Regions from separate parts of the Homo sapiens genome. Here region 1 is linked to region 2. The links come from fine-mapping of genetic effects on gene expression. A gene starts in region 2. The other region holds a variant in brackets. All regions are shown on one strand. Distances are from middle to middle.

Region 1 (16,887 bases), 190 kb after region 2:
CACTTTGTCTTTACTGCTAATATACAATATTTAGTTGCTTATATTCAGTCTAGTGACGGTAAGAGGATTTGAGACAGTGCAAAAGAAAGCACATGCTCATTATAACAGAAAACTATTAACATAGGATTGAAGGGATTTAAATAAGAAACCTTGATTTGGGAAACCTGTGGCATCAGGATATAAAACTTAGCTATATGCTTTCTAATTACCAGGATAAAAAAAAGAAACATTAGGAATTACATGGGTCTTATTTTCAAGTAGAAGAAAGTAGGTTTATCAGGTGTTAAACTTAAGACAAATTCAATTTAACAGAGTTTGATTAAGCAAAGAATTGTTCACAAATTGGGCAGCCCCCAGAACCAGAATTGGTTCACAGTGTCTTCAGGGCTGTACCTGGTCAGATAATATTTATGAGCAGAAACGGGAAAGTGAGGTACAGAAAAGGGAAATAGGGTACTGAAACAGCTGGATTGGTTACAGCTCAGCATTTGCCTTATTTGGACACATGTTCAACAGTTGGCCACCTATGATTGGCTAAAACTCTGATTAGTACAAGAAAAGATTACAATCTCTACACTTCCAGTTAGGTTACACTTTACTGTGTACGAAGAGACCTTCAGGCTGAACTTAAAATGTGTGAGGAAGAAACTTTAGGCTAAATGTAATTTAACACAGGAGAGGGAGACTCATAATATTTCTTCTCACTGAGTTGTCATGCCCTGAGCCCAGAAGTGCATTTTTTATTAATATTTATATAAGTGACTATACAAGGACTGTCCGTTTTAACAATAAAGAATTAGTTGTTTCTGATACACTAATGACTGTAGGTAAGTGACTCCAGGATTAGCTGACTGTGGCCTTAGCAACATCATCAAAGCCTGAGTTTTTTTCTACTCCATCCCCTCAGCATATTAACCTCATCTGCAGGCTACCATTCCTCATCGATAAAAAGTAGTTCTAGGCATTACAGTTCATGACAATGCCACTGACAGATAAGTAATCTTCTTCCTTATGTCTTTTTTAAGATCAAGGCAATCCTTTTCTGGAAATCATTGCATTAGATGTCTTCTTATGTCTAATTGGCCAGAATTCCTTAAACATTCTCCTGCTGAAAGTAATCATTGACCAGGGGAATGGGATCTCCATGATTGCTTATTGAACTACTGGCACTGGGGGGCTGGGATCAGCTTTTTCTGAAACAGTGGTAGCATGGGAAAAGAGGATAACTGTACAGATTCAGGGTTCAATTAGGAAAGAGGCTGATTATATAGGTCCACTACAGAGACCAACTGAACAATGTCAGTTTTGTCTTATGTGAAACGACCCATAAATTGTTTGCTTGCTTGCTTGCTTTCTTTCTTTCTTTCTTTCTTTCTTTCTTTCTTTCTTTCTCTCTCTCTCTCTCTCTCTCTCTCTCTCTCTCTCTCTCTCTCTCTCTCTCTCTCTCTCTCTCTTTCTTTCTTTCTTTCTTTCTTTCTTTCTTTCTTTTCTTTCTTTTCTTTCTTTTCTTTCTTTTTTTTTTTTATGGAGTCTTGCCCTGTTGCCCAGCCTGGAGTGCAGTGGTGTGATCTCGGCTCATTGCAACCTCTGCCTACCAGGTTCAAGCAGTTCTCTCATCTCAGCCTCCCGAGTAGCTGGGATTACAGGCACGTGCCACCACGCCTGGCTAATTATTGTATTTTTAGTAGAAATGGGGTTTCACTATGTTGGCCAGGCTGGTCTTGAACTCCTGACCTCAAGTGATCTGCTTGCCACAGACTCCCAAAGTGCTGGGATTACAGGTGTGACCCACCGCACCTGGCCCATAAATCATTTCTTATATCAGCCTAGCTGAAAGTCAGTTACATAGCCATAAAAAAAATCATTATTAAACAATTTATTGGAGGCCAGAGGTAAAAAAATATAAGTAGGAAGCGTTTTGGTGGTTTGCCCTAACATAGAATGGGGGTTAACAAAGTGTGTGTCCCCCACAACTTCCTCAACAACATTAGCATCAACATGACGGAGGAAATGATGAGAAACCATCACAGAGGAACTTGTGAGACATGCAGATTCTCAGGCTCCATCAAACTCTACTGAATTAGACACTATGGGAGTGGGGCCCAACTGTGCTTTAACAAAGCCCTTCAAGTGGTTGAGCTGAAAACTCAAGTTTGAGAATCGCTGATATTGGACATTAAGAAAATGACTGGAATACTTGGCCTTTGCCCCAACTATCCCTCCTGTGCACACAGATGGGCTCCAGGTAGAGTGGAACTAAGCTTTTTTTAGACAATTGCACTTATTCTGTTCAGGTGCTAGAATAAGGGCAATTTTAAAGCATCCAAATTTGATACCCTGAAGTAGAGAAAAGTTCATTTAGACAACAAAAATTTTGAGGAAAAATACTGTTTATCAGCGCTCAATGAATGTTTGTAAATTCAGCCTTTTCTCATCTGTAAAATGGCTGAATTACTTAGGGCAGAGTTTATATAGATTAAATGAAAGTATTACTACAAGTACCTTTAAACCCAGAAATGACTTAAAAGGTTTCATTTTTTCATGCTAACACCTGTTGGTTCTGTTTAGCTGGTTGAAGTTTCTTCTTGAGAAAGATTCTTATTTAGCAGGCTGGAGTGCCTGGATCTATTCGGTGATTTCTGCCTTGAGTTTAGAATGGAGGAGTGGCCACTTATATTCACGTTAGTCATTCCTATTTTAAACTGTTGTGTTTACTGTTTTATTAGTATAACTATTACTGCATGCACAGTCTACACACTTCAGTTTATTAGAAATCTGTTAATTCTTACGTATCTTTTATGTAAAGCGTGATTGTCTATCTTTAATCTTTATCAACAAAATGAGATTTGACTTTTAGTTGGAAATTTTCCTGCAGGACAGTTTTAGCTTTGGGCTTTTCAGTATTCTGTTATTTGTCTAGTTTTTGGTCAGTGAAAGAAGTAAAATCTGTATATATGTAACTCCAGAGTATACTCTAATATTAATGTGATAAATCTTCTTTTTTTGGGGGTGGGGGAGACAGAATCTTGCTCTGTTGCCCAGTCTGGAGTGCAGTGGCACGATCTTGGCTCACTGCAACCTCCACCTCGTGGGTTCAGGCAATTTCTCCCATCTCAGCCTGCCAAGTAGCTGAGATTACAGGAGCCTGCCACCACGCCTGGCTAGTTTTTGTATTTTTTCTTTTAGTAAACAAGGGGCTTCACCATGTTGTCCAGGTTGGTCTCGAGCTTCTGACCTCAGGGGATTCACCCACCTCAGCCTCCCAAAGTGCTGGGATTACAGGTGTATGCCACCATGCCCAGTCTTAATATGATAAATCTTTTAATTTAGGGAGGCAGAACAGAGAGCATTCACTATATGAGTAAGTTAACAGATTTTGGAATGCAGTGGAAGAATTTGATGCAGAATAAAGCATGCTTTCATGCAGATCCATAGTCATTGCAGTTAGAATTCAGGTCTGCAACAGACATAAATTGGCTAGTGTAAAGAAACCCCATATTATTATTCAGTTCTAAAATACAAACTGGGATGTAGACCTTTTTAAGACACTTCACTTTATTAAATAGCTTTTGGGTTGATAGAGTAATGTAATTTTCTTACTTTGTGTCAGAGTCCATTGGCCAGCTACTTGTACTACACTGTATTATATCATGGCAGACAAAAGCATTGCAGCCCCAGGTCAAGGCCATGCAGTGAGTTAGGGATTGAGTTCCTGCCGTTTTTCAGGACTTCTGATTTCTAGCCTAAGGTTCTTACTCTTTGATCCCACCAGTGGGCACTGACTGGATCAGAGGCAGTCACTCCAAACATTGCTTTTTTAATGGTAGGAAATAGAAACGAAAGACACTTGTTTCCACTGCAAGAATGAGCCTGATCAAGTTTTCTGGTATCCGCACCTGTGTTAGTTCTGTATTAAAAGCTGTTTACACAGCTGAGTCAGGAATTGTCCTTCACCTGTACTTGCTACAAAACAAGAGAACCCAAACTTTCTTTGCCACTGTTTATTGGTTAGGAACCTATGATCATGCTGATAAATTACTGAATTCTCCTGTTACAAGTTAGGAAACAGTGGGATTGTTCCATCAGTTTGATTCACTAGACAGTGTTGATTTCTGGTCTCCCTGGAACCATTGTTGACTGAACAGGAAACTGTTTCTGTTACCTCTGCTAATAGTAAAGAGCATGGTGCAGATATTCAAAATAAAATGATTTATAACTACCCAGAAGGTACAAGTGCTATCAGGACAAGTTCCTCATAGCACAGTCATGTCATTTGGAACACAAGGTAGATTGTTACATAATTAATATGTTTGTGATATTTAAATTATTGCATGTATAAAATTCTGTAGATGTGAAAATTATGGGGAAAAATAAGTATTTTAAGAGTTTATGTCATTTTTAAATAACATATAAAGTGTATACATGCATTACTTTGTCAGCTGATGGTTCATTGTTTCAGAAGTGGCGTATAAATAAATTACTAACTGAAATGCCCAAGTAAAATGCTCTAAAATGTTTTAGTGTGGCCCTTTTTATAGTGAGATATCTTTTCATAATTCAAAAATTTTGTTAAATTTTAAATTATCTAGTCTTTTTCTCACATTTTGGTGTGAAAAACTAAGAACATAGAATTATTCATGTTCTTAGTGATTTTAAGGACTTATTTTTAAGTGTATTATAGACATTTTTATTTAAAACATGTTTTTTAAAAAATTATTATAGCTGTATGTTGATGTCTCATCTTGAGGAACCAAAAGTAACAGAAGATGAAGAACCACCCACAGAACAAGATAAGAGGAAAAAGATGGTAAGTTATAAAAGTAGCTTGTAAAAATTAAGAACCATATATTATCATTTTCTGTAGGTTCAGAAATATCTATGGTCTATTTGTCCATCCAGCTATATGTCTATCCATCTATCCCATGTTACAGAATTAATGTAAGGTGTACCCTAAAACAGATACATTTTATTCCTAGTACAGAAAGTTGAGGTTAACTTTTCATCTGAAATAACTGTTGCTTATCTTAGTGCAGAGCAGATGATTTAGTGTTTTACTTATGGAAGGTATGTGTGACCTGCAAACCTTATTTAAGTTGAAATGTTTATTCTTCTGTTTTGAGGAGATGTACTGAAATTTCCTTGCATTCCCTATTATTTTATAGATCTTCACATGAACTTTTGCTGATCTGCATCACAGGCTTTTATAAAAATGCCCTTAAGTTAACCACTAACTTGTTGTAAAAACCACTAATTCTCACCAGAGGAATCTGATAAGGGGAAAAGAACAAAAAAAAAGGAAATATCTAAAATATCTTGCCTTTTAATATTATATATAATCGTGAATGTTTAAATATTTATTTTTACCATAAATAGAAAATAGGTACATAAGAAACTATTTTTTCCCTTTTCTTTTGGAATCTTTTCTTGTCTTCTGGCCTCATCATTTAACTAACTTTATTATACCTTCTTTCCTCATTTGCAAAATGAAAACAATTGTATCTACCTCATAGATAGAATAAATAATTAAAATGGTTATGGATACCTAGTAATTACTCTGTAAGAGTTAGCTGTCATTTTAATCTGATCATTGTATTTACACCTCGCATTACAGCACGTTAGCTCTCAAGGGCCTAATCCTTAGCTTATAGCTAACATTGCACTGCTCTGAGAGCCTTCTTTTAAACTGTTTGAATTTAACTCATTTTACTTTGCTTTTATGCTAGGTATCATCTCCCTAGCACATAGTGTAGAGGAAAGGACAACATCCAAAGATTCTTAAGACCTGAATTCTAGTCCTTTTTTACTATTACTTGTGACCTTGAGCAAGTCACCTTGTCTTTGTAGATCCGTTTGCCTCATCTGTGAAAAGCGGCAGAAATTGGATTAGCATATTTCCAGGGTCTTCGAACTGAAAAATTACTGTTAAAACTCTTAATATCATTACTTTTCTTCCCCCAAAACAATGTTTGTACATATAATAAGTCCTCATTTAACATCATTGATAGTTTCTTGGAAACTGTAACTTGAAGCAGAAAAACATATAATGAACCTAGTTGTACCATGGGCTAATTGATCTAAACAAGAAGCTCCTACAGCATATTTCTGGTCACAAAAACATCACCGAACTTCTTAATAAAGATCCAAAACACTTCTAATATTTAACATTGAAGTAAGTGTGAGCTATATATACGTTTAAGAAAGATTAATGAAAACAAGTTAAATTATTTTCCCTTGTTTTTGGTGAATCAGTGAGTGATGATGGTCGTGATGGTGGGTTAAATCAAGGAATAAATGTTTGCAAAGTGAAAATTGTAAGGAGCACCTCCTACTGCCATGCACTTCAAAAACGAACAAATCTGGCGAGCTCGCTGAAAGCTTTCATAGAGCAGCATTTATATGCATTTGTATGACAATAATTTGTATTCATTCATTCTTTCATTTTTGCAACCCACTTATTCTGCTTTACGGTAGTGGGTGGCTGGAGCCTGTCCTAGCAGCTAAGGGTGCAAGACGGGAACCAGTCCTGGACAGGACACCATTTCCTGACAGGGTGCACTTGCACACACTTACACTCAGATGGGAACAATTTAAACACGCCAGTTCACCTAGTGTGCACAGCTTTGGGATGTGGGAGGAAACTGGAGTACCCAGAGAAAAGTCACGCAGACATGGAGAGAACATGCAAACTCCACACAGACAGTGGACCCAGCCCAAATCCATTTGTTTTCCTTTTCAAAGTTACAATGAAATGATGATAGCAAGGACCTGCTGCGCAGTCATGCACTGCTCAGCAACACAACATTTCGGTCAACAGCACACTGCATATGATAGTGGTCCGATAAGATAATGATACCATATTTTTACTGTACCTTTTATGTGTTTTGATGTGTTTAGATACACAGATACTACTTGGTTACAGTTGCCTACAGTATTCGCTACAGTAACATGCTGTACAGATTTGTTGCCTAGGAGCAATAGGTTATACCATGTAGCCTAGGTGTATTGTAGGCTGTACCATCTAGGTTTGTGTAAGCACACTCCATAATGTTTACACAAGGAACTTGCCTAACAATGCATTTCTCAGAATGTATGCTCATCTTTAAGCAATGCATGACTATATATCTCGAGAAGTATTTTTCCTTTGAAATTAAACTGTTTTGTGGTTGTTTTGTTTTGTTTTGTTTTGCAATGGAGTCTCGCTCTATCACCCAGGCTGGAGTGCAGTGGTATGATCTCGGCTCTCTGCAACCTCCGCCTCCCAGGTTCAAGCAGTAACCATACCTCAGCCTCCCGAGTAGCTGGGACTACAAGTGTGTGCCACCATGTCTGGCTAATTTTTTTGTATTTTTAGTGGGCACGGGGTTTTGCCATGTTGGCCAAGCTGGTCTTGAACTCCTGACCTCAGGTGATCTGCCCACCTTGGCCTCCCAAAGTGCTGGGATTGCAGGTGTGAGCCACCATGCCTGGCCTATGTGGTATCTTAAATACGTGGAAAGTATTTTTTTTTGCACCTACAGTAATAATCTCTAAGTATAGCCTAACATTTGTCTTTCTACTGCTCACACCCCCACTTTATCATTCTAATTATATGTAGTATTGGTTTATAAAACAACCATTATTTTTTTAAGTGGCCGATTTTAAGTTACTTACTACAGTAGATATTTAATATAGATTTATATTATCATCTCTAGTAAGATTTCCAGTACCTTGGTCTTGCTCTTGGATACCCACTGCTCTTAGATATGCTGAGGATACCACAGCAGTTTTTGACTGAAGCTGGGATTGTGTATTGTATAACATTTAATAAATCCAATTATGAATACATGCTAATTTTCCAACAACTTTAAACAAAGAAAATTTGTTTCACTTATCTCTTAGAATTATAAGTTAATGTATTTTTTCAGTAATTACGTCAATCTTGAACTGTATTGTCTATAACGTTAGACATTTTTTGAGAACTATCCAGCAATATCTTGGTTGTTTCTTCAAAGGGGGAGAGTAAACATTTGCTGGCAAATGGTTATGAATTATTCTTTACAAAAAAATTAGCAAAGGCTTTTCTCATTTTAAAATGAAATTATTTGCTAGGAAGAAAAATATAGCTGCTTAGTTCCAAGGTCACATAAATGAAAATTTGATTCGCTTACTGTCATTGTTGTCTTAAAGTAGTCCATAAAATGTGGTGTCTGTGTTTCAGCAGCTGCTTTGGTAGAGAATAGCAGTAGTGATTGTAGTTCAGAAAGGCAGATGATTAATATTATATCAAATGTGCCAAATAATTTTCCATACGTTTCTGAGAATTCTCTATATTTTATTTCAAATAAGGATGAAATTTACACTCAGGAAAGCTATTAAGCTGTCCAGCCTTTTGATCTCCCTTTTCATTCAGCCTCTCTCTCTACCTTTCATTTCGGTGAAATAATACTTAGAATAGCACATGCAGCTCAAGCATTTCATTTAATATATGTTTCCTTTCTGTCCAGTATATTCTAATTAGTAGAATAATAATTTTATGACCTTTACTATAAAGACTTCAGCTAATTTATTAACATCTTTAGTTTTTTGTAATTTTTTGAAATCTGACTCATAGTCACTTGTAAGTTGTAATTTCCAAATTCTAGTTTTGAGCATTTTAATGCTTTCTCACAACTCTATGATACCAGCTAACAAAGTATTATTATTATTATTATTATTATTATTTTATTTACTTTTTTGGGATAGTCTTGCTCTGTTGT[C/T]CAGGTTGGAGTGCAATGGGTGCAAACATGGTTTACTCAGCCTCAACTTCCTGGGCTCAAAGAACCTTCCTGTCTCAGCTTCCTGTGTAGCTGAGACCGCATGTGCATGCCACTACGCTAATTTTTACATGTTTTGTAGAGACAGGGTCCCACTTTGTTGCTTAGGCTGGTCTCGAACTCTTAGGCTCAAGAGATCCTCCCTTGTCAGCCTTCCAAAGTGCCGGCATTACAGGTGTGAGCCACTCCACCCTCCCTATTTTTTCATATTATTACTTGGTTTTTTTTAAATGGGCAAATGAAAACTGTATGTATCTGTGGTGTACAACATGGTGTTTTAAAATATGTGTATATTGCAGAATGGCTGAATCAAGCTAATGAGCAAATCTGTTACCAGTTGAGCTCATTCAGAAAGAGAAAAGTTGGGCCAGGCGTGGTGGCTTATGCCTGTAATCCCAGTACTTTGGGAGGCCGAGGTGGGCAAATCGCTTGAGCCTAGGAGTTCAAGACCAGCCTGGGCAACATAGGTGAATCCTGCCTCTAAAAAAAAAAAAAATTTAGCTGGGCATGATGGCGTGCATCTGTAGTCCCAGCTACTTGGGAGGCTGAGGTGGGAGGATTGCTTGAACATGGGAGACGGAGGTTGCAGTGAGCCAAAATCATGCCACTGGTACTCCAGCCTAGACAACAGAACGAGACCCTGTCTTAAAAAAAAAAAAAAAAAAAAAAAAAAGGAGAACCCTTATGTCTCATTACAAACCACTGAAGTTAAAATGTGTGCGGCCGGGTACGGTGGCTCACGCCTGTAATCCCAGCACTTCGGGAGGCCGAGATAGGCAGATCACGAAGTCAGGAGATCGAGACCACCCTGGCTAACACAGTGAAACCCCATCTCTACTAAAAATACAAAAAAATTAGCCGGGCGTGGTGGCATGCGCCTGTAGTCCCATCTGCTGCATTATCATTTGAATGTGTTTTAAATTGAAACATATATATGGCAAACATAATCTGCAGCTTTACTTAGCTTTTTAATGCAATCAAGTATGTGTAGACTGCAGCTCTGGCAAGCTTGGCATCATAGTCTTTTGCCTAGGCTCCAGCATATGTAAGTAAACTATACGTTAGGTTGAGTTGCATTTTATTTGATGAATTTATAAGTACATCCTAAGTTTCATGCCAAATATAACAAATCCTGAGCATGGCTTTTGTACTGTCTTAGAGTGATTATTGTTTCTGTACTGCTCTTGCCAAATACTGTACTGGCTCAAGGATGGAGAACAGTGCTGCACTGTGAGGATGGAATTGTCCTGCAATCAGAGCCTACACATAGCTAACATTTTTCTCTTAGAGCACAGAGATATCTCCCTCATTTTCCCCTCCCTGCTTTCCCCTCCTTTACTCATCAACTCTGAAAACTTTCATTTTGTCTAACTTTTGGATCTAGAAGCTTTCTTTAGACTTGTACTTGTTAGAATTTAGAATACATCATCAAAAGGAAAGTGACACTGTTATGAGTTGAAACTATTTCATAAGGTTTTCTGGAAATCTTTATTCCAAATATAATGTCAACAGGGCACCCTGTGGTAGTGGCTTGGGGTGGGAGTTTTTAAACTCTCTCTGGATGATTTTGACCACTGAGAACCAGTAGATTGATTCTTTTGCCTGCTCCCATTTGCTTCTAGAAAACCTCAGCAGAACTACTATAAAGATAGAATTGTATTGGTACTGATAAGGTACTGTGTTGTTCTTAATTAAATATCAGTAATTTTTAATGTATGCATAAAATACATTTTCCTTTTGCAAATAATATGAGAATAATTCATCATCATATTGGTGGCTTCAGAACTGCCCTTTGAGAATCCTTACCTTATAGCATTCAGTAATCAAGATAAATTATAGCATTGTTGAAAATACTTTTTAGTATTCAGCTTACATGCAGTCCACCCAGGTTATGAGTTGAGAGACCTTTTTTCTTTTCTCAACTTGCGCAGTTAACATTTATCACTTCTAGTATCATGCCACATCTCTTTTTTTTTTTTTTGGAGAGTCTTACTCTGTCACCCAGGCTGGAGTGCAGTGGTGCTATCTCAGCTCACTGCAACCTGCTATCTCAGCTCACTGCAACCTCTGCCTCCCGGGTTCAAGCGATTCTCCTGCTTCAGCCTCCCAAGTAGCTGGGATTACAGGTGTGCACCACCACTGCTGGATAATTTTTGTATTTTTAGGTTAGAGACGGGGTTTCACCATGTTGGCCAGGCTGTTCCTGAACTCCTGACCTCAAGTGATCCACCCGCCTTGGCCTCCCAAAGTGCTGGGATTACAGGCATGAGCCACCACTCCTGGCCTCTCATGCCACATCTTGACCCCAAACCTTGAACTCCAACATTTCTCTCTCATCACAGTCTCTTCTTCCTTACTAATCATTCCTTTTCTTTTGGTAGATCTATTTTGAACTTTATCTGGAGCCCTACAATTTTTCCTTACTTTGTCCTCTTAAATCCTAGAGTACCATATTCTTTGCTGTTTTTACCTTTGGACAAGCTATAGCCCTCACCCTCTCTATTTCAGACTTACTGTATCTGGGGGCCTGGGAATCAGGCATACATATTTTCTAAAAGCTTCACATGTTCTTTTGGTATATAACCAGGGTTGAAAACCACTAGAATAAGAATTAAACCCCTTGACACTCTTTTAAGAAAGACCTCTGCAGTCTGCCTCCTTTTAAACTTTGTCCTGTATTCTCATTCTATCTCCTTCACTGGCTAAACCAAATGACTTGTCTCCACACGTTATATGGTTTCTGCCTCTATTACATGCTAGTCCTCCATCTGGAATAGCCCTTTTGTCCCTTTTCTCCCCACTGAGTTTTCTCATTTGCCATTTTAATTCCCATATATGCCGTGTCCCCCACATAGATGCAACCTCCCCCACTGTCCACATCCTGTACCACAGTGTTAAATTTGTTACAGCTGATGACCCTACATTGACACATCATCACTGACAATTGATAGTTTATGTTAGGGTTCACTCTGGTATTGTACATTCTATGGGTCTTAATAAATGTATAACGATGTGTATCCAACATTGTAGTATCATACGTAAGAGTTTCACTGCCTTCAAAATCCTGTGCTCTGCCTAGTCATCCCTCCCTCCCCTGAGCCCCTGGTGTTTTTACTGTCTCCATCGTTTTGTCTTTTCTGGAATGTTATGCAGTAGGACTCATACACTGTGTAGCCTCATATGATTTTTATTCAGAAAGTCAGCAGAGTGTGATGTTGCAGCTAATGTGTGTTGTCACTTGTCTGCTGGCTCACCATGTTGGTGTGGGGAAGCAGCTGGAACTGCACCAACTCCACGTCCTGCCAGATCCTCTCTAGCTTCTCTTACTTTAGAGCCAGGCACATGCCTAGTTTAATAATGAAGGCATTGGCTTCTCTTAGAAGATACCCCATCAGCAAAGTTGAAGACTTGGAAGTGATGAGAGGCTAAAGGGTGTTCCCATCTGTTCTTGTAGGTTCTACTCATTCTTGCAGTTTCACTTTGCCCTGTCCCTTGGGCCATATGACTTCAGGCTATAGCATCACCAGCACAAAAAGAAACAGCCTTCCATGGACTAGACGTTTAACTGGTTCTCACAGTCATGGAAGATCAAATCCCTATAATAAGGCCAAATATATGATTGATACAAGCTCCCTAGTGCCTAACAGCATGTATGATGTATATCAGGTGTTCAGCAAATGTTTGTTGAATGGATAAGTGACTGGATGGACCAATGAATGAATGAGAGACACAGTCCCTGCCCTCAAGGAGCTCCTAGACCAGTGTAGAGACAGAACTGAGATGTAGGGCTGACAACACAATTGTGTCATTTTGACATCTCTAGTGGAGCAGTCTGGAGAAGAGCTGGGCCTGCCCCTAGGCCTCCCAGTCACCAATGTCTTCCTGGTTTGAGTTTATGCTGGGTGAGGTGATGGGCACTTCATTAGACTGCCATGTTAGTTGGTGTCCCCAGGGGTCTGGGAGCACATAATTCAGTGTCCTAATGTCCAGCAGGTGACTGCAAGGGTTGCTTCTGAAAATGAGGTTCTAACTGTTGTGTGTCCAGGTGCTACAGCAAATATGAGGTCAACTCGTAGTCACATGTGTAGGTCTGCTTCTGGCGCCTGCTCCTGGGACCACATTGGATGTGGCTGTTGGCGATACTGTAATTGTAGCAGTCCCATTTAGGGAAGCACTGCCTAGCTCTCAGGAGGGAATAACAGCAGTCATGGGTGAGGCAACAACCAGTTGTTGGCATCCACCGGCTGCCTCTGGCCCACCAAACCACAGTGGCAGCCATAGATGAGGTACTTGTAATATTACTGGATATATTTTATCATACTGTTTGAGTGAATAAAAGCATAGGCTTGAATGCTATGTTAACCTGGTTAACATAGAGGTACTCATATTTGTTACTTTATTGCTTGCCATCTGATTATTTCTTTTTTCCTTCAAAAATTACTGAAATGATTTTGTTTTTTTCTTTATCCTTTGGCACAAGATGATCTTTACAAAGTTTGTAGATAGATAATAGGAAAAAGCCAGCTATATATTGAAAAGCAGTTTGAAAGATAGTGAATATAAATTATTGCTTCTCATTTTGCATTGAGAAGGCAATTTTACTATTAATTTTTATCCATGTGTCTGTCTTTTGGTTGTCACTGGTTTGTTGTCACTTACGTGTTGGTTATCACATATCACATATATTTGCACCAAATTTGGTTATCATAAGGCCCAGTTTATAAAAATGTGTGCAAATCCTCACACTCCATTCTTTTAAGACTTAACAAAATTAACAATATTAAAAGCATTTCTCTGTTTACTCTTAGTTAAGTAATCAAATAATCAAGTGATAATAATCAAATGATCAAGTAATCAAATAATCCTACCTGCTACCATTGCACAACTAAATATATAATGGCAATAGAACTAGCATCTTCAAAATGAATCTTTTTTTTTCTTCTGTATTCATTCCACATACATTTTTTAATGCTTACCATGTGAAAACCATTGATCTTTATAATCAGTACTTCCTCTGAGAACCTATCTTCTAGGGTATTTTGATCAACAGTACATACATAGTATTTTTAAAGTGTTAGATATCATTAACTTATTACCAGGCCAGTTTCTTAAAATGGAAAGATGTACTTGTTTTTATCTATGCTTTGCTCACATTCTACCTGCTTCTCTAAGTTTGATTAACTGACTGTTGTACTGCTGTTGATACATCCTTATTTTCATTTCTAGATGATACACTGAAACATACAAAAAGCCATTGTAGGACATATAACTTTACCTATAAATATTTCAAAATTGTAAACCAAACATAGCTTTCCTTATAAATGAGGCCCACAAGCTCAATGTTAAACTTATCTCAAGTATTAGAAATACACTGTGGTCATGGGTAATTCAGGTCCTAAAAAGTGCAGAGTTGAAAGTGACATTAAAACAATCCAAGAAGATAGGAAATAATGAATTGAAATAATCCAACTGAGATGCAATAAAGATACAAATTGATAACCAGGCATCCTAAGGTAGCAGTTCTTCCTGTGATAGAGCTAAAATGTTAATCAAAAAATAGTTTCAGATTATAGAGGTTAAGATCCTTCACAGTAGGCTACATAATAGTAATCAAAGACACTGGAAAAGAAAATTCCCTTGAAAATGCCTTTGGAACTAAATAAAGTGATGATAGTGATGGTTATTTTTTAGTTGAGATTTCAAATTAATTGCCTGCTGACGTCAGTATTGTTCTTGAGTATTGCATAGCAGACGGCCTCACTGTATCTCCCTTATTTACTTGAATTGTTACTAAAAACCTTAATTGTGATGAATTCAGTAACTTTGCCCCTGTTCACTTGGAAACGTTGGCAACATGGTATTGGCTCAAGGTAAATAAAATCTTCAGGTTTGTAAATGAAGAATGTGGTCTCATTTGGGAGAACTTTTTTAGTAACTTAGGTAACATGCCAGGGTACATTAGACTGCCTTCATGGCAGTTTTTCCTATTTCCTGTTTTTCTCTTCTGCTTCTTTTTCTCAATAAATTGTAGTACTTACTGTCTTTTAATATAAGGGACTTGTCTTTCAAGGGAAGAAAAATTAAGTAAACTTTTTGAAGAATTGTTCTGTATGTGGAAGTTGCCATTTTGAAGAAATTGATTTTTCATTATAAAAGTAACCTATACTAAAAACCACAAAATGAATGATATGTTGTGAAATAACATTCCCCTAGGTAACCTTTACTAACATTATGCGATAAGTCCTTCCAAATATTTTATATACATACATAAAATATATGATCTATATGTATTTTAAATGTTAAAATTACGTTACATTCTGTTCTGGTGCTTGATTTTTCTTAAATGAAGAACTGCATAATTCAGTGAACCAGTATTTTCCAAACGATCTGTGAGTACATGTTAAAAAAATCATTCAAAGGTAAAGATTTATTCAGAGAGTAAGACAGGCCAACGGATTTTAATGTGACAGAGAATGGGGGTCTATTGATATGGTTTCAGAGTTCTTTTAAGAAACTACTATTTGTGAGTTTCAGTGTAGTTTCAAAGAAGAATATCCAAAATGGTCAGCAAAGGCTGTTAAATACTACTCCATTTTCCAGCTGCATATCTGAGAAAGACTGGATTTTCTTTACTTTAACCAAAACACATAATGCAACAGATTGAATGCAGAAATAGATACGAGAATCCGGCTTTCATTTAAGCCACACATTAGATTTCCAAGTATGTAAAGCAGTGCCATTTTTCTCACTAAAGAGATATTTTTATTTTGAAAAATAGTTATTTATAAAAATTATATTAACATGTAATGGATTTATTGATATTTTAAAGTGAGTTGATAAGTATTTTTGAATTTTCTAATTTCTGATCCAGTAAATATTGGTAGATTTAACCCATATAAGCAAATACTTCTTGAGATCACCAATAACTTTTAAATGTAAAAATATTAAGGGCCTTGAGGCCAAAATGAGAAACTACTCTTGAAAGACATTGAGATTGTTTCCATTTTTCAGTTATTATAAGCAGCGCTTCAGTAAACAACATCAAGTGCTGTCTTTATGTACTTCTAAAAGTTTGTAAGTCTGTAGGAAAAATTCTTAGAAGTAGATATGCTGGGCTGAAGGATATGTGTTTTTGAAATAGTGATAGATTATACCAAATTGCCAATTTATGTGCTCAGGAGTGGTTCATGAGTCATCCTACAGTCTGATCAATGGGATAAGTAGAAAGCAGTGTTTTGTTGTTTAATGTACTTTTTCTTAATTATGAGTGAGACTAAGAATTTTTTAGATGTTTATAGCTCATTGATATTTTTTTGTTTGATGAATGGCTTGTTCATATTTCCCTCTCTCACACATTTTTTTACTGGACATTTTGTTTGATTATCTGATTTTAAATAAGAGTCCCATGGTAGATTTTATTTCCCAAGAATAGCCATAATAATATCTCCTATTCCACATGCTCTTCTTTTTTTTTTTTTTTTTTTTTTTGAGGCAGAATCTTATTTTCTCACCCAGTTTGGAGTGCAGTAGTGTGATCTGGCTCACTGCAACCTCTATCTGATGGGCTCAAGCCATCCTCCCACCTCAGCCCTCCAAGTAGCAGGGACTACAGGTGCACACCACCACACCTGGCTAATTTTCATATTTTTTGTAGAGAAGAACTTTTGCCATGTTGCCCAGGCTCGTCTTGAACTCCCAAGCTCAGGCAATCGGCCCGCCTCAGCCTCCCAAAGTACTGGGATTACAGGTGTGAGCCACCACGCCTGGCACACATGCTCTTCTTAAAAATGTGATTTTGACATTCTTCCTTATTGGCAGGTTGGGTCTATATTCCTTCCCTTTGAAACTGGGCAAATTTGCTGATAGTTTATGATTTCCCAAGTCTCGATTATAAGATAGAGCTTCCACCTGGTTCTCTAAGGACACTTGTACTTGGAAACCAGCCACCATACTATAAGGAAGCCCATAAATCCATAAGAAGTAGGCCTCATTTTCCCCATCTGAGATCCCAGTTGACAGCCAGCATTAACTACTAAACTCATGAATCAGTGACCCTTAAGATGATTCCAGCCCCCGAAGGGCCTGAGTCACCCCA
Region 2 (16,887 bases):
CTCCAATGTGTACTGCTGTGTAACCACAGCCTGGAGACAAGAGCAGAGAAGGCAAAATTGTTCTTTTGATTCATCAATGAATGACCACTATTGCTCCCTAGAATAGCATTGTAGGCCTTTCAAATTAAGTTCCTATTTACCTTACTTATTTACTTCCCAACGTTATCAAGTTCCTTTTTCTTCCTTAAACATCTTTATACCTCGGCTTTGTGAGTGCTCTTCCTTTTGCATTCTCGACCTTCCCCTGGCTAACTTTTGTTTGCTGTTAAAGACACAACTCATATATATAATATAAATATATATATTTAAATATAAATATAAACATATATAAATATAAATATATATATATATATATATTTTAAGATAGAGCCTTGCTCTGTCACCCAGGCTGCAGTGCAGTGCCATGATCTTGGCTCACTGCAACCTCAGCCTCCCAGATTCAAGCTATTCTCATGCCTCAGCCTCTCAAGTAGCTGGGATTGCAGGCGTGCACCACCACCACGCTGGCTAATTTTTTTTTTTTTTTTTGTATTTTTAGTAGAGATGGGTTTTCACCATGTTGCCCATGCTGGTCTTGAACTGGCCTCAAGTGGTCTGCCCGCCTTGCCCTCCCAAAGTGCAGGGATTACAGGCATGAGTTACCGTGCCTGGCTTCAAATGTTATATTTTTAAAATAGTGGCCCAGGCTGGGTTGCAGTGAGGCAGACGTTGCAGTGAGTTGAGTTTGCTCCACTGCACTCCAGCCTAGGTGACAGAATAAGACTCCGTCTCAAAGAAAGAAAGAAAAGAGGGAGGGAGGGAGCGAAGGAAGGAAAGGAAGAAGGAAGGAAGGAAAGGAAGAAGGAAGGAAGGAAGGAAGGAAGGAAGGAAGGAAGGAAGGAAGGAAGGAAGGAAGGAAGGAATCCTGAATACTATAAACAAGATTCTTCTATGAATGTATTCTTTAGAATGATCTAAATATGTGGCTGGGCATGGTGACTCACGCCTATAATCCCAGCACTTTGGGAGGCCAAGGCGGGTGGATCATTTGAGGTCAGGAGTTCGAAACCAGCCTGGTCAACATAGTGAAACCCTGTCTCTACTAAAAATACAAACATTAGCTGGGTATGGTGGTGTGCACCTGTAATCCCAGCTACTCTGGAGGCTGAGGCAGGAGGCAGAGGTTGCGGTGAGCTGAGATTGCGCCACTGCACTCCAGTCTGGGCAACAGAGTGAGACCCTGTCTCAAAAACAAAAACAAACAAACAAAAAAGAATGATCTAAATATTTTTAGATAATCATAAAGACTATGTTAGATTAATACAATTATTTAAAGAAGATGATTATGGTCTCTGTTTAATACCAGCATAGGTGTAAACCTTGTCAGTGAATATTACATAATTGATACCTCTCAAAAACATTTGTCAGATAAATGTTTCCACATCATTACCATTGTTAAAAGAGAAACTAAGGCACAGTAAAATCTTAAAATGTTTATTTGAGCAGACAGTGATTCATGAATCAGTTTGGGACTCTGTTAAAGGCGCACCAAAGAAAGGCTTTTATAGGGTGAATGTGGAAGCATGGCAAATAAAATACACTGAGTTGGGTTTTGGTTTGCTTCTGTAGGAACCCAGGGTGCTGGAGCAGCCTCAGTCTAATGGCCTCTCTATTAATTATTTTAACATCATAAAATAATGTATATCATGTTGCAAAATAAAGCTTTTAGAAGGTTTCCAAATACAATAAAAACCAAATTATTAGGGTACATAGAATTCTATTTGTGGGTTAGAGTCTATTTTTATTTTTACTATTTATTTATTTTTGAGATAGGGTCCTGCTCTGTTGCCTAGGCTGGAGTGCAGTGGCACAATCATGGCTCACTGCAACCTCCCTGTCCAGGCCTCAAGCGATCCTCCCACCTCAGCCTCCAGAGTAGCTGAGACCACAGGTTCATGCTACCATGCCCAGCTTATCTTAGTATTTTTTGTAGAGATGGCATTTTGCCTAGGTTGATCTTGAACTCTTGACCTTAAGTGATCCTCCCACCTCAGCCTACAGAAGTGCTGAGATCAGAGGTGTGAGCTACCACACCTGGCTAGAATCTATTTTTATATTGTATATTTATACTTATGTATTTTTTATTTTAAACAATATTTTATAGTATAAATAAATAAAAATATTTTATTTTATAAAGTGGTGCATGCTCCTAATCCCAGCTTCATTAAGGAGACTGAGATGGGAGGAACACTTGAGCCCAGGAGTTTGAGACCAGCCAGAGCAACATAGCCAGAGACCCTGTCTCTAAAAGCAAAAAAGAAAAAAAAAGCCCTTTTCCAAGTTATTACACACTCTGAATAATTAATATTGAAAACTGTTGGCCGGGCGCGGTGGCTCACGCCTGTAATCCCAGCACTTTGGGAGGCCGAGGCGGGGCGGATCACGAGATCAGCAGAACGGCGTGAACCCGGAAGGCGGAGCTTGCAGTGAGCTGAGATCGGGCCACTGCACTCCAGCCTGGGCGACAGAGCGAGACTCCGTCTCAAAAAAAAAAAAAAGAAAGAAAGAAAACTGCTACAGAAACTTTCACCTTGTGAATGCGTAAGGGTTTACTAAATCCTGCCTATTCCATTGTTCTTATAAAAATAGAGCCATAGACATTTTAGTTTATACCTGGAAAATATTTTCAGTACTTTGAATTGGTTCTCTAGTATAGATTTCCAGGCATGGAATTATTTACTCAAACTGCGTGAACATTTTAGTCTTTGAATATAAATTGACAAATTATTTTCTTTTTTTATTTTTTGAGACGGAGTCTTGCTCTGTTGCCCAGGCTGGAGTGCAGTGGCACAATCTCTGCTCACTGCAACCTCTGCCTCCCAGGACTGATTTACATAATCAGTCCTTATGGAAATAATAAACTTGTTTCAAGTTTATTATAAACAAAAATGAATCTAGGAATTATGTTAATTTATAAGCATCTAATGAGCTGTATTATAATGTAGAGTTATCCAAGACTCAATTTTATGCAAGTTAAAATAATAAATGAAGGGTAGCAAATTAGAGAGCCTATAACTTTTGAGCATATATTCTATTGCTGCTTCAGCAAAGTACCACAAACCTAATTAGTGGCTTAAAACAAGATACATTTATTAATTTAGAGTTCTGGAGGTTAGAAGTCTAAAATTGTTTTCATGTCTGAGTTTCTTCTGGAGGCTGTAGAAGAGAATCAGTTTCCATGACTTTTCCAGCTTCTATAGGCTTTCTGCATTCCTTGGCTCATGGCCCTGGCATCCCTCTGACATCTATTATACTGGCATATTTTCTTTGTCTTGGACACTCCAGCGTCCCTCTTATAAAGACCCCTCTGATTACATTGGACCTAGAGGATAATCCAGCATAATCTTCCCATAGTAAGATTATCCTGGATAATTTAATCACATTGGCAAAATCCCTTTTGCTCTGTAAAGTAACATATTCACAGGTTTTGGGGATTAGGACATGGACATCTTTTATTCTACCTACCAGGAAACATAGATCTAAATTTGTTTAGAAATGGAGAACCTCGAGCCTCACCTCAGACTAAATGAATCATGAACTGTATTTTAACAAGATCCCTATGTGATTCTATGAACACTTAAAATTTGAGAAGTACTATCTTTGTTTTTTATTTTTTTTTGAGACAGAGTTTTGCTCTGTTGCCCCCAGGCTGGAGTGCAATGGTGCAGTCTCGGCTCACTGCAACCTCTGCCTCCCGGGTTCAAACCATTCTCCTGCCTCAGCCTTCCGAGCAGCTAGGATTACAGGCATGTGCCACCACGCCCAGCTAATTTTTGTATTTTGGGTAGAGACGGAGTTTCTCCATGTTGATCAGGCTGGCCTCGAACTCCCGACCTCAGGTGATCCGCCTGCCTCAGCCTCCCAAAGTGCTGGGATTACAGGTGTGAGCCACCTCTCCAAGCCTGAGAAGTACTATCTTTCAATAAAATCAGAAGATACAGTTAAGCAAAAAGAAAATAAAGCATGGTCACAATACCCATCCAACTAGTGATAAACCCTCCTAGCATTTTGGCATTTATTTATTTCCAAAAGTGGGACATTCTGAACATAATGTTTTGCAACCCTCTTTTTTCACAATGCATTGTGCATGTGTAAACATGTCAACAAATACACTTCAAGATAATTTTATTTTGTTTAATTAATTAATTAATATATATTTTTTTGAGACAGAGTCTCCCTCTGCCGCCCAGGCTGGAGTGCAGTGGCACGATCTCGGCTCACTGCAACCTCTGCCTCCTGGGTTCCAGCAATTCTCCTGCCTCAGCCTCCCGAGTAGCTGGGATTACAGGTGCCTGCCACAAAGCCCAGCTAAATTTCTGTATTTTTAGTAGAGATAGGGTTTCACCATGTTGGCCAGGCTGGTCTCGCTCTCCTGACCTCCAGCAATCCACATGCCCCGGCCTCCCAAAGTGCTGGAATTACAGGCATGAGACACTGCGCCCGGCCTATTTATTTTTTCTTGAGATGGAGTCTCGCTCTGTCGCTTAGGCTGGAGTGCAGTGGTGCGAACTCGGCTCACTGCAACCTCCGCCTCCCGGCCTCAAGCGATTCTTCTGTCTCAGTCTCCTGAGTAGCTGGGATTACAAGCGCATGCCACCACGCCAGGCTAATTTTTGTAGTTTCAGTAGAGACAGGGTTTCACCATGTTGGCCAAGCTGGTCTTGAACTCCTGACCTCAGGTGACCTGTCCGTCTTGGTCTCCCAAAGTGCTGTGATTACAGGTGTGAGCCACTGTGCCCGACCTCAACATAATTTTAAATGGTCAATTTGTATTTTATTATGTATGGATGTATTGTGATTTAATCATTTGTGTCATTGGTGGTTGTTTAGGTAATTTTATCTTTTTACTTTAAAAAACAGCCCTTGTGTGATCGACATTCTTGGAATGCAGAGCTTGGTTCAAATCCTAACATGGCCTTTTACTAGCTGTTTGACGTTAGGTGGGCTACTTGACTTCTCTGTGCTTCAGTTTCTTCATCTGTGAAGTGGACATAAAGAAAATACCTACCTCATAAGGGTTGTTCTGAGGATTAAAATAGATAATTCCCATAAAGATCTTAAAACTGTACCTGGAATATTCTAAATTAGCAATAAAGGTTTTCTATTATTAATATTTTTGAACACTCTATTTCCTTACAACTTCTTTTACTATTATTATTATTATTTTGAGACGGAGTTTTGCTCTTATTGCCCAGGCTGGAGTGCAATGGCGCGATCTCGCCTCACTGCAACCTTTGCCCCCAGGGTTCAAGCGATTCTCCTACCTCAGCCTCCCGAGTAGCTGGGATTACAGGGGTGCACCATCATGCCCAGCTAATTTTTTATATTTTTAGTAGAGATGGGGTTTCTCCTTGTTGGTCAAGCTGGTCTCGAACTCCTGACCTAAGGTGATCTGCCCGCCTCGGCCTCCCAAAGTGCTGGGATTACAGGCGTGAGCCACTGTGCCTGGCCTTACTATTATTATTTTTAAGAAATATATAGTTGGTGTGTATTTTTAATTAATTTATTTATTTTGAGACGGAGTCTATTTATTTATTTATTTATTTATTTGTTTATTTATTTTGAGACGGAGTCTCGCTCTGTTGCCCAGGCTGGAGTGCAGTGGAGCAATCTTGGCTCACTGCAACCTCTGCCTCCAGGGTTCAAGCGATTCCCCTGCCTCAGCCTCCTGAGTAGCTGGGATTACAGGCGCCCGCCACCGCGCCAGGCTAATTACTGTATTTTTAGTAGAGACAGGGTTTCATCATGTTGGCCAGGCTGGTCTCGAACTTCGGACTTCGTGGTCCGGCCGCCTCAGCCTCCCAAAGTGCCGGGATTACAGGTGTGAGCTACTGTGCCCACCCCTTATTATTTTTGAAATGGGTGTGTGTGTGTGTGTGTGTGTGTGTGTGTGAACTCTCTATATGTCCCAGGTTGGCTTCGAATTCCTGGGCTCAAGTGATCCTCCTGCCTCCATATCTGGAGTAGCTGGGACTACAGGCGCGCGCCACTGCGCCTGAGTAAGTTCTCTTTTTAAGGATAAGAAAATTTAGGTGACTATGCTAGCTTTTAGCAGAGGCAAGCAGAACTGGATTTATGTCCTTTTACATTTTTCCACTCTTGCTATTACTCAGGAGTAAGCGCCAAGCAATTTGGGTAACTTAAAAAATAAATATTTGCGGGAGGGAGGGTGGACTGATGGGAGTAAGATTCTTTAAATAACTCTTCTCTGCTGTGACGGATCCGCTATTGATATCTAGAATATAAAGCGTGAAATGGTTCTGATTGAAGCTTCAATCAACGCAGGAAACAATTGAGCTCCCTGGGAGTCGGAGAAACCAGACCTATGGTTTCCATGGTGACAGATCCGGCTAGTCCGGACTCCTGGCTCTTTATACTGCGCAAGCGCACTGCGCAAGCGCACACAACTGATTTGGATACCCCGCGCCTTTTGGTTCAAAGACAAAGCCCCTCCTTCCCCTTCCCGCCGTTCGCCTATCGCCTTCTCTCTCTGCCGGTCGCATGCGCGCTGGTCTCCTGTGACGTAGTTTTCGCGCGTCCGCGTCGTTTGGAGCTGCGACGCCAAACATGGCGTGTTCCTAGAAGCCGCTTTCGGCATCAGTAGGCGGCGGCGTGGGGTCTGGCAGCGTGGGGAGAGGGACCAACCGACGCCACTTCGTGTTGGGAAGTGGGAGCGGGAGGGCCGGGCAATTCCCGACCGAACCAAACGGTGAGGCCCCGGCCCGAGAGCCACCGAGCGCGCGGGAGTGGAAGGGAGTGGGTTGGGCACCCGAGTCCCGAGAGGCGGGAGGAAAGTGGGGCTACCAGGAGATGAGGGATAACGGTAGCGAGGCAAGGGCGGCCTGCAGACTTGGCTGTTTGCGCAACCTTAGGAACCCGGGGAACTGGGGGCTGGCCGAGGCAGCCCGGGAGTGGGCAGCATGGTAGTGGAGCAATCAGGGTGCGGGGTGGGAGGGACCGTATGCTAGGCTGAGCAGAGGCGAGTGTACCCATCGTGACCGCGGTTGCGGACCTGGGTGATGCATTTGCCCTTGGGGGATAGGTGGTGCAAATTTTGAGATAAAGTGGTTATCTCGAGTATAAGACCGTTGTGCATTGTTACTGCGCACGCGACCTTGTTGCTAATAGCAATAGTGTGATAGCTTTAAACATTAGACCCTTACATGCTTTTAATGAAAAAGTGAAGGTAGTTGTCCGTTTATAGAGAGGAGCTTCATGGAGAGGTATGGCCGCCAATTCTCAAGCTCAGCGACTCCTGTAGATTTATATTTGGGGGTATTTGTGATTCAGCAAAACTACTTTTGCTTATTACGTGTGTCATTTTTTCTTTATTATTTTGTGACATGTTGGTGAATGAGAGAAGTACTATCTGAAAGTGATTTGACTAAATAGCAAGGACTGGTAAATTACCTACTAGTGCCAAGGTTGCAGTTGACATACCTCCTCCCCTCCATAATTTAAACGAGCTCAGTTGTAGCGCGGTAGTGCCCTTCAGATTTCGGTTATTCTTCAGAAGGAAGAATAGTTTGTAGCCATAATGCTTTTCCCCCTCCTGGGATAGGAATTTTCTTCCTCCATTTTCATGTTATTTCAAACTTCTCTGTTCAGTAGAGGAGCTTCAGATTAAGGGCAGGGTGACTCTTCTATAGGAGACATCCATTGCATGACACATATTACATCTTTCATCACTGAGGAAAATTTCGGTGAAAGTAGAAACATTTTCCCTTTTGGTTATGATGGGACTGGTATTTTCTCTGTTTCTGCAGTAACCTAGCACAGGGTATAGTAGAAACAATTAATTATAGTAGTGGCTTGTGGCCATATATTATAGTCTCAGGGTAGGAGGGTGGTCTCCGCCCTAGTTGAACTTCTAAGGCCAAAGAGAATTTTCACCACAAACACATTTGGCTGTGGTAATGTTAGAGGTTTTAAACAAATATGTAAAGATTATCTGATCATTAATAGAACAATTTTTAGATTTTGTGATGTTTGAATATATTTGCATTTGGAATCAAACCAGAATGCAGCATGATCCTTGTAGGCATGTGGCTATTAAAATACACTGAAGATTTTTCCAGAAACAAAATTTTTTTTTCTCAGCAATAAAAATATTCAAATTTTGGGTAAGGTAATGTTTGATTATTTGGATTTTGACCTTTGTGTTATATATTTGTACCTGTGTGTGTGTATGTATGTAACCTCACTTCTAATTTAGTGTTATTGATGGTAATATTTTTTCCTTTCTTTATCAGCTTCAAATAGGGACTGTTAATTTCAGAGCGTTTAAGGAATGGCAAAACACATTTAGTGCTGGTGTGAGTCTGTAGTGTGTTTGGTTTGCTGACTATCAGACTTATTACAGATAAGTCCACAGTTATAAGCTTTGTAGAGCTTAAGTTGCATCAGTGTTCTTTACCCTTGCTACTCAAATTGTGGTATATAGCATCACCTGGGAGTTTATTAGAAATGCATGATCTCAGGCTCAATCCAGAGCTGCTGAATCAAAATCTGCAATTTTAACAAGTTATCTAGATGAAAGGAATGTTCAATAAATCTTGAGATGCACTACTTTGGTTGGTAACAGTTGAAGAACACTGAGGTAATGCACAAACCGGTATAAAAATTTATAGCATCATTTATTTTAATCTGAGGTGATCTTATGCTGATTATCCAGTCTGATGAAACTGAGGCCCAGAAAGGTAAGTGCCTTGCATAAGGTCACACATACCTAGATTTATAACCCAGATTCCAACTCATTCCAGTGCTTTTCTTTTGCTGGTTACTGTCAGAGCTTGTTATATTAAAAACGGACTAAAATTCATGAATGACAATTAGGTGTTCATTCAATAACAAACGTCTATTGGGTACTGTACAGGCAGCCTAACAATCCTGTGTGTCCCTGCTAACTGCTCCTGTTTATCATGGTGGCTATTAACCCACCACCTTTCCTCTTTATTTTTTTTGAGGCGGGGTCTCACTGTCACCTAGGCTGGAGTGCAGTGGCGTGATCTCTGCTCACTGCATCTTCCGCCTCCCGGGTTCAAGCGGTTCTCCTGCCTCAGCCTCCAGAGTAGCTAGGATTACAGGTGCCTGCCACCAAGCCTGGCTAATTTTTGTATTTTTAGTAGACAGGGTTTCACCATTTTGGCCAGACTGGTCTTGAACTCCTGACCTCCCTGAACTCCACCCACCTTGGCCTCCCAAAGTGCTGGGATTACAGGAGTGAGCCCGGCCCCGTCTTTACTTTTTTTTTTTTTTTTTTTTTGAGATGGAGTTCTGCTCTTTTTGCCCAGGCTGGAGTGCAGTGGCGCGATCTCAATTCACTGCAACCTCCGCCTCCTGGGTTCAAGTGATTCTCCTGCCTCAGCCTCCTGAGTAGCTGGGATTACCGGCATGCACCGCCATGCCCAGCTAATTTTGTATTTTTAGTAGAGACGGGGTTTCTCCATGTTTGTCAGGCTGGTCTCGAACTCTCGACCTCAGGTGATCCCCCTGCCTCAGCCTCCCAAAGTGCTGGGATTACAGGCTTGAGCCACCACGCCCGGCCCCCTCTTTACTCTTTACTGGATAAAGTTCCCTTCTGCTTCATAGAGGAAATGAAATACATTGAGTGGGAACTTCATTGCTTTCTGTTCTGTTTCACCTGCAAACATGAAGACCTCTATCTGTCCATCTCTAATGATATTCTGAGTTTTTTCTCCTTACGGGCAATATTTCCTTCATGTGTTTGCTAGGGCCGCCACAACAAAATACCTTATATTGGGTAGCTTAAACAAGAGAATTTTTTTTCTCACAGTTCTGGAGAGTGGAAGTCTAAGATCAAGGTGCAGATAAGATTGGTTTCCTGTAAGACCTCCATCCTTGGCTTGCAGATGGCCACCTTCTTGCTGCCTTTTCTCGTGGTCATCCTGTGTGTACATGCACCTCTGCTGTATCTTTCTGTTTTCTTTTTTTTTCTTTTCTTTTTTTTTTTTTTTTTGAGACGGAGCCTCGCTCTTGTCTCCCAGGCTGGAGTGCAGTGGCCCGCTCTCAGGTCACTGCAACCTCCGCCTTCCCGGTTCAAGCGATTCTCCTGCCTCAGCCTCCTGAGTAGTTGGGATTACAGGCGCTCACCACCACGCCCGGCTAATTTTTATATTTTTAGTAGAGACGGGTTTCACCATGTTGTCCAGGCTGGTCTCAAACTCCTGACCTCAGGTGATCTGCCCGCCTCAGCCTCCCAAAGTGCTGGGATTACAGGCGTGAGCCACTGCACTGGCCTGCTGTTTCTTTTTCTTATAATGGCATCAGTTATATTGGTTTAGGGCCTTACCCTAACAACCTCATCTTATCTTAATCACCTTAAAAACTTTATCTCCAAATACTGAGGGTTCGGGGGTTAGGGCTTCAACATGAATTTTTAAGGAACACAGTTCAATCCATAACATTCAGTTACTCCTTTTTCAACTAGTACTAACTTAACAAGGATTTAAGCATACCCAAGTCTCTTATTATCTTTTTTTTTTTTTATTTTTTTTTTTTGAGACAGAGTACTCACTCTGTTTCTCAGGCTTGAGTGCAGTGGTGCTATCTTGGCTCACTGCAACTTCTGCCTCCCAGGCTCAAGCGATCCCTCCACCTCAGCCTCTCTGGTGGCTGGGACCACAGGTGAGGCGCAGGCCACCATGCTTGGCTAATTTTTGAATTTTTTTTTGTAGAGATGGGGTTTTGCCACATTGCCCAGGCTTGTCTCAAACTCCTGGGTTCAAGCGATCCACTGGCCTTGGCCTCCTGAAGTGTATTGGAATTATATGGGTGAGCCACCGTGCCTGGCCTCAAATCAAGTCTTATCTGAAATATACGCTCCTTACCTTAGATTCTTAGATTCCTCTTCAGCTTTATCTATAATTATTTTTCTTAGTTTTTTTTTTTCTCCTTTTTTTAAGAGACAAGGTCTCTTGTTACCTAGGCTGGCCTCAAACTTCAGGGCTCAAGTGATCCTGCCACTTCAATCTCATGAGTAGCTGGTACTACTTGTGTGTGCCACCATGCCCAGCTTATTTCCTTTAAGTTTCTTGAAAGAATTCTCTATATTCATTTTCTTCACCTCCTTATTGGTTAATTTTTTTTTTTTTTTTTTTTTTTTTTGGTATTTTGAAGGCTGACAGTCCATAGCAGTCACTGAATTTGATGTAGTGGTGATCACCATTGATATCTTTGTTGCTAAATCTAATGGAATCTGTTTAATCATTTGCCATTTTAACTACTTGTTCGTTCTTGAAATTTTCTTCTTATACTTCTGGGACACCATATTTTCCTTATTTCCTTCTTAGGTTTTAGCCAGTCTTTTGTTGGTTATTTTTCTCTTTTCTCTGACCACTTTAGATGTTTGACTCTGAGGCACTACCCTGCTCTCTTCTGAAAACCTTCAGATAAAAATCCAAACTACGTAGTTTAGGAAATAAGGACTTCAATGCACACTCTTCATGAATGGTCTCATTTGTGACTTCAACTATTGCCTCTATTTTGATGACTCCCAAATCTGGCTTTTTAGCACAGGTCTCTCTTCAACGCTGACATATGTAGTTGTCTTAAAATACTTGACATTCATGTCAAAAACGTTGTGTATTTCAACCTTCCTGACATTGTTTTCCTCCTATGAGCCATGCAGGCACCAATCAGTTGGAAAAGCCCAAAATCTTAATTCTTTCCCCTTATTAACTTATGTGTAACCCCTCCTCCAACTCTCCAACTATCTAATTATTTTATTTCCAACTCTCCAACTAGCCATTATTTATTTATTTATTTCTGAGACAGAATTTCACTCGTAGCCCAGGCTAAAGTGCAATGGTGCAATCTCGTCTCACCGCAACCTCTGCCTCCCAAGTTCGAGTGATTCTCCTGCTGCAGCTTTCCGAGTAGCTGGGATTACAGGCATGCACTACCATGCCCACGCCTGCCTAGTTTTTTTTTTTTTTTCTTTGAGAGAGAGTTTCACTCTTATTGACCAAGCTGGAGTGCAGTGGCACCATCTCGGCTCACTGCGACCTCCGCCTTCTGGGTTCAAGTGATTCTTCTGCCTCAGCCTCCTGAGTAGCTGGGATTACAGACGTGCGCCACCATGCCTGGCTAATTTTGTATTTTTAGTAGAGTATGTTGGTCAGGCTGATCTCAAACTCCTGACCTCAGGTGATCCACCTGCCTCGGCCTTCTAAAGTATTGGGATTACAGGCATGAGCCACTGCACCCAGCCAACACATATCATATAGTTTAAAATGTAAGTGTTTCCAGTACAGTAAGCTATTAACAGTATAGTGCTATGAACAGCATTCATATAGTTAATAGCATTATGCAGAAAAATTAAGGATATCGGGAACATAGAGATTCTTGGTTGAGGAGTGAGCCCTTTTAGATTGGCAGTTAGTGGAGACCTCTTTAAATAGAGGACAACTTGAGCAGAATGGAATGCTGTCAAAGAGCAAGACATGCTTTTATCTAGAGACCAGAGCTTTCCAGCCAGAGGGAACAAATTGTACAAGGGATAAGATACATTTTATACATATTTCACTAAAGATGTTCACGTATTGTCTCCAAGTCTCTGTTAATATAGATAACTAGGTCATGCAGACAACCTAGTCCTTTGTCTCCTTATTCTTATATGCCTGTGCAGGGGTTTCTGTGATTATAGCACCAGGTGTGAAACTGCTGGGTCATAGAAGATACAGTCACGAGTTGCTTAAGGCTGGGATACATCCTGAGAAATGGGTCGTTAGGCAATTTTGTTGTTCTATGAACATCATATGAACAAACCTAGATGGTACAGCCTATTATACACTTGGGCTATGTGGTATATAGCTTATTGTATCTAGGCTATAAGCCTGTACAGCATGTTACTGCACTGAATACTGTAAGCAGTTGTCACAAAATGGTAAGTATTTGTGTGTTTAAACATGTCTAAACTTAGAAAGGTACTGTAAAAATACAGTGTAGAAGTAAAAAATGGTACATCTGTACAGGGCACTTACCTCGAATGGAGCTTGGAGGACTGGAAATTGGTTTGGATGAATCAGTGAGTGAGTGGTGAGTGAAAGTGAAGGCCTAGGGCATTATTGTACACTTAGGCTAAAATAAATTTATTAAGAAATTTTTTTCTTCAATAATCTTAGCTTATTGTAACTTTTAGTTTATAAACTTTTTGTCTCTGTTGCAGTAACACTTAGCTTAAAACACAAATACATTGTGTAGTTCTACGTTGTTTAAAACAGACGCAAACACACACATTAACTCAGGTACACACAAGGTCAGGATCATCAATATCTCTGTCTTCCACCTCCACATCTTGTCTCACTGGAAGGTCTTCGGGGGCAATAACATTCATGGAGCTGTCATCTTCTATGATAGCAATGACTTCTTCTGAATTATCTCCTGAAGGACCTGTCTGAGGCTGTTTTACAGTTAACTTTTTTTTTTAATAGGAGTAGTACATTGTAAAATTATGATAAGAAGTATAGTAGTGGGGCTTGGTGGCTCACTTCTGTAATCCCAGGGTTTAGGGAAGCTGAGGTGGGAGGATTGCTTGAGGTCTGGGGTTTGAAATCAGCCAGGGCAACATAGCCAGACCCCATCTCTACAAAAAGTAAAAAAATTAGCATGGCATGATGGCTCATCCCTGTAGTCCCAAGTCTCAACTATTCAGGAGGCTGAGGTGGAATGACTGCTTGAGCCCAAGAGTTCAACGTTGTAGTGAATTATGATGCCGGCATTGCTCTCTACCTCAGGTGACAGAGATCGTAACTCTTAAAAAAAGTAGGCTGGGCGTGGTGGCTCACGCCTGTAATCTTAGCACTTCGGGAGGCCAAGGCGGGTGGATCACGGGGTCAGGAGATTGAGACCAGCCTGGCCAACATGGTGATACCCTGTTTCTACTAAAAAAATACAAAAATTAGCCAGGCGTGGTGGCACACACCTGTAATCCCAGCTACTTGGGAGGCTGAGGCAGGAGAATTGCTTGAACCCGGGCGATGGAGGTTTCAGTGAGCCAAGATCGTACCACTGCACTCCAGCCTGGGCAACAAGAGTGAAGCTCCGTCTCAAAAAAAAAAAAAAAAAAAGTATAATGTAGTAAATGCATAAACCAGTAACATAGTTGCTTATTATCACTTTCAAGTGTTATGTACTGTACCTAATTGTATGTGCTCTGCTTTTATACAAATGGCAGTGCAGTAGGTTAGTTTACACCAGCATCACCACTAACGTGTGAGTAATGTGATTTACTACGACTTAGGATGGCTATGATGTCACTATGTGATAGGAATTTTAAAGCTCCATTAAAATCTTACGGGATCACTGTCGTATATATGTGGTCCATATCTGACTGAAACTTTTTTTTTTTTTTTTTGAGACAGGGTCTCACTCTGTCACCCAGGCTGGAGTGCAGTGGCACGATCGTGGCTCACTGCAGCCTTGACCTCCTGGGCTCAGGTGATTCTCCCATCTCAGCCTCCTGAGTAGCTGGGACTACAGGTGTGCCCCACCATGCCCAGCTAACTTTTTGTTTTTTTAGTAGTGATGGGGTTTCTCCATGTTGCCCAGGCTGGTCTTGAACTCCTGCACTCTAAGTGATCCACCCGCCTCAGCCTTCCAAAGTGTTGGATTACAGGCGTGAGCCGCCATTTTTATGTGGTGTGTGACCCTCTGTGTGTCCTGGTCATAGAATACACAAAATATATACTCAATTTCATTAGAGACAGCTAGATAGCTCTCCAAAGTTGTATTAATAGATATTCCCAGTAGCAGTGTTTAAGAGTTTCTGTTTCCATGCATTCTTGCCAGCATTGAATATTTTTGGACTTTGTAATTTTTGCTAGTCTGATCATAAAGTAGTTTTTCACTGTTTGGATTTTAAATCCCTGATAACCAGTGAGATAGCATCTCTTCTGATATTAATTAAACATTTAGCTCTTCTTTTCTATATATTTTCTGCTTACACCCTTTGTTCACTTTTCTTATATATTTGTCTTGTTGATTCACAAGGGTTCCTTGTATATTCTGTATAATACACCTTTGTTTTAGTTATGTATTAATAACATTTCTTCTCTTAATCTTCACCTTGTTAACCTTGTGTAGGGTATCTTCAATGACTCCATCAATTTCAGTCTTCAGTTCTGATGTAGTATAATTCATTAGGCAGATAGGCTGTGAACTTGATGTATTTTTGTTCTTTCTCAAGTCTAAAGCTAAAAATTCCCAGTTAATTTCACTTGAGATATTAATGGACAGCACTGAACAAAAGTAAAAGTGTTTAATCTTTCGGGAGTACTGGGTGGGGACAGGAGACTTACATTTAAAGTTCTAGAAATGTCACTAATGAGCCTGTGACCTTAGAGAAGTCAGTTTATCTCCTTATCTTTTGGCCACAGTGTCTTGGTCAGTAAAACAAAATACTTAAACTGTGTAGAGAACTGATATGGGTGGCTCCAAGGTGATAGGAAAATTATATTTATTTACTTGTTAACTTATATGGACTCACAACTGAGAGAAAAATTATTTTAATGATAAAATGTAGAATAGTGATTAACTGTGGGATTATTACTTGGCATACAGCACATGCATGTTTGAACAAATGGGTTTTTATAAATACAATGACAGGCTGAGCTCTTTATAGCAAGAATGAGATTCTTATAAGATACAGCTTTATAGACAGTGATGTCTTCAACCAGTAAATGGAAACTACCAATCGAAGATGTCTATATTTGGAGAGAGGACTGATGATCTCTTACACTCAGCAAAAAGTTTTGCCTAACTGCTAGTTATAAATTATAGTCTGTTAAATTTAATCTAGGCTGTGTTGTTATCTCTATTCAGTGCCTTAATCAAAATCAGTTTTATAGCTTTTCCTTCCTATTTTTTTTCATATCCAAGAAGGAACTTTATTTATTTATTTTTTGAGATGGAATCTTGCTTGTTGCCCAGGCTGGAGTGCAGTGACACCATCTTGGCTCACTGCAACCTCCACCTCCTGGGTTCAAGCAGTTCTCCTGCCTCAGCCTCCCTAGTAGCTGGGATTATAGGTGCCCACCACCATGCTCAGCTAATTTTTGTGTTTTTAGTAGAAATGGGGTTTCACCATGTTGGCCAGGCTGGTCTCAAACTCCTGACCTCAGGTGATCTGCCTGCCTCGGCCTCCAAAAGTGCTGGGATTACAGGTGTGAGCCACTGCCCAGCCAGAGAAGGACCTTTAAAAGCAATAAGCATAACTGCTGTTCCTTAGTGGGTTTTGTACAGACATGTATTTTTGTTTTTCAGCTAAGGAGACACCAGAGGGTGATGGTTGACAGTAGTTGGTACCTCACAGCTGGGCACTGATCAGGTAGGGGGTGTCAATATTGTTTAGGATAATGTATAACTTTTCTTATTAGGGGGAGATTAGTCACGGGGAACTCTTGTATATACCAAACAGGCAAGAGACTTATTGCAGTTTATCAGTGCCATTTTACTAAAAACTCCCGGTGAGACAGAAATACTCAAGTTTTTCGGACAGGTCTTCCTCTCACAGGTCTGCCTCCCCTGTCTATTGTCTTCTTACATACTTTATACTTCACCCATTTATTATTTGTTTCCCATTTATTTGTCTCCCCACTATAAAATATGCTTCACAAGTCTTGGATTTTTTTTTGTCTTTTTAGTTAATCGATGTATCTCAAGTGCCTAGACTAGTGTCTGGCATTTGCAGGTGTTCAGTATATATTTATTGAATTAATAAATATGGAAAAGCCTAATGATAAAGCAAGAAAATATCAGAAAGGGGATTGGAGAGCGCAGGATTAGAAAAAAGGGTGTTAGATATTCCCAGTGAAAAGTATTATTAAA

The links. PIP is the estimated chance that this variant, and not a neighbour inherited with it, causes the effect.
Region 1: its variant is fine-mapped to the expression of IPO11 in whole blood (TOPMed, PIP above 0.99).

The regions. Positions count from the first base shown.
Region 1 is chr5:62,597,042-62,613,928 of GRCh38, forward strand. It overlaps IPO11 (importin 11), which reads left to right. Exons shown (of 30, transcript NM_016338.5): 29 at 4,723-4,807. IPO11-LRRC70 (IPO11-LRRC70 readthrough) reads left to right here. Exons shown (of 4, transcript NR_073584.1): 3 at 4,723-4,807. Among named protein-coding and RNA genes, the nearest start is that of LRRC70, 27 kb to the left of the region's middle. RefSeq lists a silencer at 12,985-13,103. The variant C/T (reference allele first, on the strand shown) is at 8,736.
Region 2 is chr5:62,406,182-62,423,068 of GRCh38, forward strand. IPO11 (importin 11) reads left to right here and starts at 6,582. Exons shown (of 30, transcript NM_016338.5): 1 at 6,582-6,748. RefSeq lists an enhancer at 6,503-6,692 and a silencer at 7,023-7,072.